2 separate regions of the Homo sapiens genome follow, and region 2 is reported to be linked to region 1. Evidence: microRNA targets listed by miRTarBase, many of them from high-throughput screens and not tested one by one. Region 1 holds a microRNA gene; the other region holds the end of a gene's coding sequence.

Region 1 (5,360 bases):
GGGAGGGGAATTTGTTTTTTAATGTCAAAGGTTGTGTTAGCATGTACATTTAACCCAGGAAATTGTGAGAACTCTCTTCAACTCAAGTTGGAAAAAGGGAATGTGTTTGAGCAAAGTCTATTTTTAACAACAGAAAAGTGTGAGTTAAAGTGGACTGTGTGTTAGGTTGGGAATATAATCCATGGCAACTTCACTATACAAGTATTTTTGATTCTTCAGTGGAACTCATCCTCAAATTTTAGTAACTTGAAAAATTGAAGTCTTAAGTATTGTGTATTAAACTGAACCAAGAGATCACAGAAAGACAAAGCTATGGTAAAAGATGTTATAGTTATATTCTCATAGATTTAGTAGGAAAATCACAGCAAAGGAAATGCACCAGGAAGATATGAAATAGAGGAAATATGTTACAAATAATGAAATAGAAGGAGTTGCTGCACAATATAGCTTCACAATCTTATATTTTGAGGGGTAGGTTTTAATGAGAAGCCTCTGCATTGCATGGGAACTGGGAGTCGTAAGAATTATTTATGCAGTAAGAAGGAAAAAAATTAATTATTAGGAGCTCAATAATCACCAAATAAACTCTGAGCTTGGAGGTTAAAAATAGACGGCTATCTTCATGTTCAATTATACAGTATCAATTACTAATACAACTGATGTTTCAGTGTCTCAGCGAGAACAGATACCATCTTCTATGGAGATATCTTGGTATTAATTAATGACTGCTTTATTCTCATTATTCACAAGGAAAAATAGGGGTCGTGTCACATTAAAATTAAGATTATCTTAGTTTATCTGGGCTCTTAAACAAAGATCATTCAAAGTAATTATACTTTGAATTAATCGAGGTAGGCAATTTATCTCGTTATTTTTTTTTGTTCAAAGACAGGAAAATAAAGATCAGAAATAAGCAAAGTTTCATTTTGAAGATAGAAAGAACCAAACAAACATGTCTTGACTTTTGCAGTATTTCCCTTGCTAAAGGGGGAATGAGGGAACTGTAAAAGACGTGACTTTGCAAAGTCAAGTCCTTTTTAAAAGACTCGGATCGAAATTCTTGCTATGCAACAAGGATTCAAGTTTGATTAATTTTCTGCAAGCGACGTGACAGCGGTGTTTTAAAAGATTAATTAAAATTGAAGTGATACGGAGCAGGAATTCAACCTGCAGAGGCGTCCCTGGCGCCTTGGGGGGCTTTGTAAGCGAGTCCCAAGCCCGAACTGCGGGCTTTCCCGAGCCTGGGACGCAACTCCCCGTCTCCTGGAGAGGAACGCGGAATTTGGCAGGGCGCCCGCCTGGCCGCCTGGCATCCTGAGCTGGCCGCCAGCTCTCGGGGGGTGGGGACTGGGTGTGTCCTGGGGAACCCGCTGCCGAGAGAGCAGCTAGCGCAGCTCGCGACGAGCCATTGAGGACCAGGGTCGCGCCGAGAGGCCGGAGGGGGCTCCAGGCAGCCTGGAGCTGACGGCGCCGGGCTGCGTCCTCTTCACCTGGGGGTGGGGGGTGGGGGCACGTACTTTGTGACCAGGATGGTGCCGAGCCCCCTCTACGGCGGGAGCTTGCAGGGGTGCGGGGGTGTGACTGGCGCTCCGCGGACTCGTGTCCACAGTACAGAGGACATGTAGGGTTCGGCCGGGGCGCGGCTGCACCGGGGCCTGCCTCGCGGACCTGGACTCGGGACTCCGGGCGGCCCTGCCTGGTGCCATTGCCTCAGCCAAGTCTCCCACCTCTCTGCTCGGTTTCCCGCCCCACCTTTCCCCTACTACCGCATCCCTGTCCCCTCGCTTCCCTCCGCGATGTCTCCATCCGAGTAAGAAACGAAGCTGAACGCATTGGTAACTGTGCTCAAGAAGATGCAATCGCGGGAGCCCTCAGGGTGGCGCACGGCGGAGAGGCGACGCGGGTGGCGCTGCAGAGGGTACGGTGGGGGGCGGGGAAGAGGGGGGCGTTCGTGTGCAATTAGCCTCCCCAGGGCGCGGACCACGGTGTCCCCTTCTCTCCAGCTGGGGGTCTCGGGTCCTGGCGCTGAGAGGCCGCACCTTGCCTTGCTGCCCGGGCCGTGCACCCGTGGGCCCCAGGGCGACGCGGCGGGGGCGGCCCTAGCGACCTGCGGCGGCGCCGGGAAAGCCCTGCCTCTGCAGCGGGTCCCAGGGGTCGGGGCCTGGAAGGGTCCCTGGGAATGCTCCGCGCCGAGAAGGCTCTGTGGTTTCTCCTCCCCCACACGTCTCCCTCTCCTCCCCTCTTCCCGGGGACCTCAGAGGTGGCGGGGAAGTGGGAAGGGAGGCGGGCTTGCAGACCGTGCAGGCTGGGGAGCCGGAGCTCGGGAGTTGGGGGAGTCCGAGTGAGAACGGAAGCGCGTGGACGCGATGGAAGGGGCCGGGGGAAAGGGGGACGGCACTGGGGAGGGCTGGGGTGCGGGGCAGGCGACAGTCCCTTCCCCTCCGAGCGGCGCGGGGGACCTCTTCCCCGGGGAACCCCCACCCAGCCGTTCCCAACCTCGAGAACAAAGGGTCTGGGAAGCACGGTCGGGGTCGGGGAGCGGAGGTGGAGGGAGGCAGGAAGGCAGGCGGTGGGGGCAGGGGAGGGCGCCTCCCCACGTTTCCTCTCGCGGCCGAATGATGGAAAGCTCCCTCCAGCAAACGCCTCACTGAGGCCGCTTCTGAATCCGGGAGGGTTCGGGTTCGTTACCTAACGGCTGCACTTCGCTCCCTTCCTCCCCCAGCGTCCCCACCCCCTCCGGGGACCGGGGCCCCGGAGCTGCCAGGCCCGCTGCACGCGGCGGCGCGGGAGAAACCACGGGGCAGCAGCGCCCCCTGCAGGTGCCGGGCGCCTCCGCAGCCGCTGCGCGGACCCGACTCTTAAGGTGGCACCACCGGGTTCCCAGCCCGCGCGCAACCCGCAGCCCTGGCTCCATCCGCCGCACTTCTCCCTGTAGCGGCGGGCCTGACCGTCCGGAACGGCCGGAGTGTGCTGATGCCTGCTGCTATCTGCTTGATCCCTTCACCCTACCTCTCATCCAGGACTTCTTCCGCGGATGCGCAGCTAGCGATTTCGACAGGCGAGATTGAAAATTCCGGGCGAGTATATGAGGTTGAGTAAGTCCCGCTTCAGGGAGGAACGACCAGAATGACATTTCTTTAAGCCTAAATCAAACTTTTATTTTCGTTTATAAAAAGCAGAAGGCCAGCAGGAAAGGGTCGCGGAGGACTGGCACATCCACAACCGTAGGACTCTTGGATCCAAGTTTTTAGGCTGAGACTGGGCGGTCCGGGGTTCTCCTTCGGCGCTCACACCCCGCAAACTCGTGGGCAGTGCAGTGCTGGAGGCCGGGGGCAGTGGCGGACCCGCAGGGTAACCTTGTCTCGCGCACCTCCCGAGCCCCCAGCAGCCCACTCTCGTCCGAATGCTTTGTTTATTTGGTGACACCAGGGAACGTGGAGAAGAAGATCGAAGTTCAGTTTTTCTTTTTTCTTTATTTTAAATATTTTTCTTAACTAAATGGTATGTTTATGTGAACCCATCATCTCTTGGAATTAAGTGTCCTCAGCGAACTCCAGATTCCTAGGGGAAACCTACGTGCCCAGAGCAGGAAACGCACAAGTCAATTCAGGTTCCGGTGCCATCCGCAGTAAATTCCCTTCCTTTTGCTCCAAATTCCTCCTCTGCGTCCAGGAGAGGGACCCCCGGGACTCCCGCACACCCAGGACCGGGAGCGGCAGAGCAGAGGGCGGGTGCGAGGGCGCGAGGGAAGGGAGGCGGCCTGCGGACCTGGGGCGCGCAGTTTCCCGGCTCCGTGGGAACCTCCAACCCCGGGGCGCGCGGCCTAGGCTCCGCCCTGCCAGGCTTGGGGCCGAGCGGCCCACCTAGTGGGTCCTGACCTGGGGAAGCCGAGTCCGCGCGCGGGTCGGGCCGCGACGAGGGAAGCTCGCCTGGGCAAGTGCCGCGCGGGGTCAGACCCACCCCAGGGGTTGCAAACCGCAAGCGAAAGTCGAGAGGGGCTGGAGCTTTCCCTCTGATCCGTTTTACACTGTGAAAACCGCAGGCCTGTCGCCTAGGCGGCCACTTTTAAATTGGGAAGCAAATAGACGAAAAACCAAAACAAACGTACGAGCTGACTTTTCCCAGCTAAGTTTCCCCTCAATAAAAAGCCCGCTTTCTGGGAAAGACAGAAACTGATCCGCGCTCACGATTGCTTTCTTGGAGATTCTGGGGGCACTGGGGCGCGCAGGAGGCGCGGCGACAACCCCAGCGCGCATGGGGCAGCCTGGACTGTGCCCCTCTTACCAAGCTCCTTCCCAGGCTTCTCCGTGCTTCTCTCTCCACTGGGGTCCCGCCTCTCCACGGGTCACGCCGAGGCTATATGCTGCTTGCAAGGGGTCCGCGCTTTCTCGTTCGGCGGGAAAGGCACATGTTGGAGCTCGATGTTGGGGCTCAGGGTGTGGTTGATTTGTCTGCTGATCTGGGTTTCTTCCCAGCACCGGGCAGGAAGTGTAGGAGTTTGGGTCGCCAGTCCAGGGACTCGGGAAACTTCCAGGCCAACCAGAAGAAACACTTGCAGACACCTTTCGAATGTCACAGTTTTCCCCAGGGGAAAAAGCAGAAGTTGCTGGGCACATCACCCAGCACCCGGGCAAACTCTCCACTTACCTCGCGCCCTGCTAGGGGGTGTTGGGGGCCCTCCGGGAACCCCTAGATGAGCAAGCAAAGTTGCAAGAAGTGGGGTGGGGAACGCTCACCCGATAAACCATGCACCAAACTTAATCAGCCTGTAATGCTTACTCTAAATCTAGGCCCATCTAGGCCAGGTGGGCTGAGTCTTGGGATAGTGGGTGTCTCCTTCCTATGTTGATACATTAAGGATTCCATATGGACAATTATTTTTAGTCAAATTTGTGGTCCTGGAGATAGAAAGAGGAGAAGAAGAGAGAAGAAAGACAGAAGAGCTTTATTGTTCTTTTTTTTTTTTTTTTTTTTTTGAGATGGAGTCTCGCCCTGTTGTCCAGGCTGGAGTACAGTGGCGCCATCTTGGCTAACTGCAACCTCCACCTCCCCGGTTCAAGCAATTCTCCTACCTCAGCCTCCTGAGTAGCTGGGACTACAGGCAGCCGCCACCATGACCAGCTAATTTTTTTTTTTACTTTTAGTAGAGATGGGGTTTCACCATGTTAGCCAGGATGGTCTCGAACTCCTGACCTTGTGATCCGCCCACCTCAGCCTCCCTAGGTGCTGGGATTACAGGCGTGAGCAACCACCCGGCCTTATTGTTCTTATATTAAAACAAAAGAACCTAGAAAAAATTGCTTGGTTAAATTGTAGAGAGGAAGGGAGGGAAGGAAAATGAAGGCTTTTCTTCTTTGTTC
Region 2 (5,360 bases), not on the chromosome of region 1:
AGGCCGGTTCAGGCAGCCGGGATCTCCTGGGGCTGGAGTGGGCATTGGAGCCAGAAGTGGGGCAAGAGTCACTGACCAGCCGGAAAGAGGGGCCTCAGTAGGGGGGCCAGGGATGGAGGGGGAGGGGACACGACCGGGAGGCCCAGAGCAGGGTGTGTACGGTGAAGACGGTGCTGAGGCAGCGAGGCAGGTGGGCGAGCAGGTGGCCAGCCTGGCAGGGTGGGATGGGGCAGCAGACACAGGGCTCAGGGCCCGTTCCACCAGGCCAAGAGGGTCCAGCCTATCTGGAACTGAACCCTAGTGCTCAGCCCCCTGGGGGTGGCCCTTGAGGATGGGCCCTGGGCCTGGGGGGGCCCCTGAGGACGCCCCCAGGAGGAATTAGGGGGGCAGTTGGGGCGGGGGCTCTGCCGGGGGCCCAGCTCTGTTCCTGAGCTGCAGTGGGGAAGCAGGGTGGTAGGGTTTCTGAGTGGGTCGGCTCCCCCACTTGGTGGCAGGTGTTATGTGGAGGGCTCTGGGAACACTGCACCTCCCCTGGGCGTACCTGCCCCAGCCTGGAGGCCCACAGCGGGACGCCAGCTGCCTCTGGGATGTGTTTGGGATATTTCAGGGACCCCTACCATGCTGTCTGTGCAGGGGCCTTCGGGGTAGGGGGTGGGTTCCGGGGGCCCAGGGCCGGGCCAGGCAAGTGACAGCTTCTCTTCTCCTTGTGACAGGAAGTGGGACCCATGGCAGCCGAGACCTCCCAGTCAACAGAATCATCGATGTGGATCTTGTAACTGGCTCGGCGCCCGGGCGGGATGGTGGCATAGCGGGGGCACAGGCTGGCCCTGGGAGGTCGCAGGCCAGTGGTGGGCCTCCTACATCAGACCTCCCTGGCTTGGGCCCCGTCCCGGGTGAGCCTGCTAAGCCCAAGACCAGCGCTCACCACGCCACCTTCGTCTGAGCTGCCCTGGCCTGGCCAACTCTCCTGTGGACATGTCGGGGTGGGGCAGCCCAGGTGGATTCTGTGGGCCTCAGGGGGGCCACCCTGGCCACCACACCCTCAGGAGCCCAGCCAGGAGGGCAGGGGGTGACCTCGCTGGAGGCACTGGCCCCGGACATTCGCCATGCTGGCCATGGGGCTCCCTGGCCCTGGCCTCCTGCTGCCCAATAAAGCATTTCTGAGGACCCAAGCGTCGGCCTGGTGCTGGGTGCTGGGGACACAGACTCCTCGTTCTCGGGGACTCCGAGCACATCCCCAGGAGGTCATGCAGGAAACAGAGGGGCCTGAGGAGGAGAAGTGCCCCAGGGTAAGGTCAAGGGGGCTTTGAGGAGAGGGAAGCTTGGCTCCTGGGGCCTGAGGGCCAGGACCAGATGGCAGAGACTGGCTCTCGCCGTCACGTGGGGACCCTGCCCCAGCCTTGTTTAGCAGGGTGGTCTGAGGGCCTTTCTGGGGAGGGACCATGTAAACTGCAACTGGACGGCAGAGGAAGTCTAGAAAGAGCCCTGGGCCTGTGCCAAGGCCCTGGGGCTAAGGAGGGTCTGATTACAGAAAGGGAACCAGGTGTGGCTGCAGGGGAGGCCGGGGCCTTGGGGGCTGGGTTGAGTCGGAAGAGGCAGGGCCATTCCCCAGGTTGCCTTGATGGAACCCCTAAAGCCAAGTACCCTCGGTACAGGGTGGTTGGTGAGCTCCTCAGACCATCCTAGAGGCCCGAGAGCACAGCCAGTCCCCTGGGGCTGTTCTAGAAGCTTCCAGGGAGTGGATGCACCCCACTTAGTGGTGCTCTAGGAAGGGGGCTGGGGGAGGGGTCGGAATGGAAGATGAAGCCCAGTGCCAGCTGTGTGTACCACCCACCACAAGCCCGCATCCATCCTGCTCCCAGCACCCACCATGCCTCCACATTCACCGTGCCCCCAGGGCCCACCATGACCTCCCCCCCAACCCCCAACCCCCCATTCACCGTGCCCCCAGCACCCACCATGCCTCCACATTCACCGTGCCCCCAGGGCCCACCATGACCTCCCCCCCAACCCCCAACCCCCCATTCACCGTGCCCCAGGGCCCACCATGACCTCCCCCCCAACCCCCAACCCCCCATTCACCGTGCCCCCAGGGCCCACCACGCCTCCATGTGCACTGTGCCCCCTGGGGCCCACGGTGTCAAGCTGGGTGGTCAGTGGGTGTCCATTCTCTCTCCCTCTGCACAGACAGGCAAATGGGGGGCAGAGAGAGGGGTTTTAGGGGATACAGGGAGGCAGCTTCAGCCCTCGCTGGTCTCCAGGCCACAGTGGTTCACTCACCCCTCCTCCCACCTCGGCAGCCCTGGGATGTCGCTGCTGACTCAGGAGGAACCCGAGGTGCCGTAGCGGCTGCTCCAATATTGCAGAAGAGGTTCCTCAGGCAGCTCTGCCCACAGCCCCAAGTCACGAATTCCGTGACTCCAGCTCCATCCCAGGCCCCAGGGTACCTGGCCCAGGGTTGTGCTGCCGCAGACTTGGCCTGTACCATCCAGGCGGCGGTGGGGAGCTGGGGTTGGAAAGGCTTCTTGGAGTGGACTCCTGGGTCTGTCTGGGAGACGGGGAGGAAGGGACACTCTGAACATCACCAGGGGCTGCTGGGGGGCCCTGGCCACCCCCAGAGTCAGAACAGGCAGGTGGGGCAGGATCTCAGGTCATCCTATGCTACACTCAGCCATTGCGTGGCCCCTCTCCTCCCTGTGCCTGGCCTTTTGGCCAGCCCTGGGGCCACCGAGAGGATGCAGCACCGAACCCTCCAGGAGCCCCCAGTGCTGCCGTCTGTGGGACAGGGACAATCCCATCCCCACTGCTACTGTCTGTGCTGTGCTGGGCACAGAGCTGGACACCTCCAAGGCCCAGCGCCCGTAGTGGCTCTCATCATGGACAATTCACAGGCAGATGGTGGCCAGCTCTGTGGCCTGCAGGGACTGGGAGCGGCGCCAGACCATCTAGGCCCCAACCTATCTGCATTATCCTGGAAGACTTCCTGGAGGAGGCTTCTAAGCTGAGGCCCAAGGACCATGTCAGGTCTAGGACTAGGACCAGTGCAGGCCGAGGCCAGAGAGACAGCTGGGCTTCCAGGTAGGGTCAAAGTGAGGTGGGCAGCAGGTGTGGGGGCCAGGGGACTCGGGGACTTCCTCTCCGGCTGGGCCCGCCTGACGTGGGAGGCAGCCAGGGTTAATCATTTCCACGAAGCCTTGACCCCACCTGCCTTGGCCGCTCTGCTCCCGCCTCCCACTGCCCCTCAGGCCAGCTCAGGAGCCATGGGGCGCTGGGCCTGGGTCCCCAGCCCCTGGCCCCCACCGGGGCTGGGCCCCTTCCTCCTCCTCCTCCTGCTGCTGCTGCTGCTGCCACGGGGGTTCCAGCCCCAGCCTGGCGGGGTGAGCACTGACCTTGTCGCAGTGCGACCAGAGGTTCCCAGTGGCTACTTGGGGTCCTTGGGAGGAGGCCAGAGGGAGGGTCGCCACAGAGCGTGGGGATTTGAGGGGGCGGGGGTCCGAGCAGGGGGCTTACGTTGAAAGCTGGCCCTCACAGGGCAGGTGGGTGCTGGACTGGCCTTGGAGGCTGGGGCCTGGGCTCACGGAGCCCCACCTGGGGGCTGTCATCCCTGTGCGGCCTGGCCTGGGCCCCTATGGGTCTGGGGGCTGCCCCCTCTCTCTGGACCTCTGTTGGGTCTGGATGCGTGAGGTTGGGGGAACCTCCCAGGGCCTCCTAGCTGCTCCCATCACCAAAAACTGACGTCAGGGTTTAAGCTTGGTGGGTAGCAGTGCCTGGGCCTGGGCAGTGACCCTGAGCAGGTGTTAACTAGGGGCCGAGGGCGGGGAAGGTGTCAGGGCCTGGCTGAGGCCTCAGGAATGTCGTGTGTCCTCCTGGAACCTGCTCCGAGATCTGGGGGCCCCAGTATGGAAACAGGCTCAGGGCTGTGACCTCCTGCCCGGCAGGACCTGAGTGTGAGGGTCTGTCCCACACTGACACCCTTTCTGCTCCTCCTAGAACCGTACGGAGTCCCCAGAACCTAATGCCACAGCGACCCCTGCGATCCCCACTATCCTGGTGACCTCTGTGACCTCTGAGACCCCAGCAACAAGTGCTCCAGAGGCAGAGGGACCCCAAAGTGGGGGGCTCCCGCCCCCGCCCAGGGCAGTTCCCTCGAGCAGTAGCCCCCAGGCCCAAGGTGGGTCAGGTGGGCCTGGGAGGAGGTGTCGTGCTTCACCTTAGGGCTGGGTGGGAGGAGCATGGCTGCGGCTGGAGGTCCTGAGGGGCTCGGGTGCCCCTCGAGGGAGCCCTGACCCTGCCACCCCCTCCCCACAGCACTCACCGAGGACGGGAGGCCCTGCAGGTTCCCCTTCCGCTACGGGGGCCGCATGCTGCATGCCTGCACTTCGGAGGGCAGTGCACACAGGAAGTGGTGGGTCCGGGCAGCCGGGGCACCCGAGCTGGGGTCACCTGCCCCACGCTGCCTGCTTTTCTGGGAGCCGGGCACACAGTAGGCGCTCACCACGCAGCAGGCGGACCCAGTGAACCCAGAGACCCTCCAGGGTGGTGGGGTGGGGTGGGGGGCCTCTGCCTGGGACCCCCATGCACGCAGGTGTCGCCCCCCAGGTGTGCCACAACTCACAACTACGACCGGGACAGGGCCTGGGGCTACTGTGTGGAGGCCACCCCGCCTCCAGGGGGCCCAGGTGGGTGCTGGGTTGGGTAGCCTGGGGCGGGCAGGGGGCACTGGGCCAGGCCAGAAGGGCCAAGGGGAGGATGGGGCGGACCCGGGCAGGGGTCCTGGCTGGAGGGGAGCAGAAGAGGAGCTCTGGGATTAACCCCGGTGGGTGCCACTTAGGGCCAGAGCCTCTCCCAGGTGGGACCTGCGTCTCATGGTGGCTGCGCGGCCATCGCTGGGGCCAAGGCGCCGCCTGGTGGTGAGGCCGGGCCCTGCAGCCACACAGGCGTGCCCCAGGCAGGGGACAGGTGGGCAGGGTCTGTGGGGTGCGGTGCCAGCCGCCCTGCTCACATGGGTCCTGGGACACATGGGAGGGGTCTGCTGCCTGACAGTGTGGGTGTCAGGCTTCCAGGAAGCCACGTGCACAGCTGGGCCAGTGGCCCAGGTGTTGAGTGGGGGACGCTGGGAGGAAGGGGAGGTCTGTGCCCCTCCCAGGGACCTTGCACCCCGAGGGGCGTAGAGAGGGCCCCTTTGCTCTCAGAGCCCCTCACTGGGGCCTGATGGACGCCTTAGCAAGCAGAGAATGTCACAGAGGGACCCTGAGCCTCCCAGTCCGCCCCTCACACCCCCTCCCGCATGTCCCCAGCTGCCCTGGATCCCTGTGCCTCCGGCCCCTGCCTCAATGGAGGCTCCTGCTCCAATACCCAGG

What was found. Region 1 holds the annotated microRNA hsa-miR-1915-3p (CCCCAGGGCGACGCGGCGGG, at 2,073-2,092, shown strand). A microRNA usually pairs through its seed, bases 2 to 8, with sites in the 3' UTR of a target mRNA and lowers its output. Matches are read on the target gene's strand: a 7mer-m8 pairs with bases 2 to 8, a 7mer-A1 pairs with bases 2 to 7 and ends in A, and an 8mer does both.
Region 2: the mRNA of RGS12 is a reported target of hsa-miR-1915-3p. The part of its 3' UTR that is shown has no 7-base or 8-base seed match.

What each region holds. Positions count from the first base shown.
Region 1 is chr10:21,493,308-21,498,667 of GRCh38, reverse strand. It overlaps MIR1915 (microRNA 1915), which reads left to right and starts at 2,027; the gene lies at 2,027-2,106. MIR1915HG (MIR1915 host gene) reads left to right here and starts at 1,408. Exons shown (of 2, transcript NR_160800.1): 1 at 1,408-1,918; 2 at 2,723-5,360. RefSeq lists silencers at 1,928-2,177, 2,388-2,437, 2,488-2,927, 3,741-3,840 and an enhancer at 3,352-4,145.
Region 2 is chr4:3,438,742-3,444,101 of GRCh38, forward strand. It overlaps RGS12 (regulator of G protein signaling 12), which reads left to right. Exons shown (of 18, transcript NM_001394154.1): 18 at 714-1,172. The coding sequence ends at 943. HGFAC (HGF activator) reads left to right here and starts at 3,227. Exons shown (of 14, transcript NM_001528.4): 1 at 3,227-3,377; 2 at 3,991-4,171; 3 at 4,309-4,405; 4 at 4,600-4,679; 5 at 5,298-5,360. The coding sequence starts at 3,261. RefSeq lists a silencer at 4,757-4,806.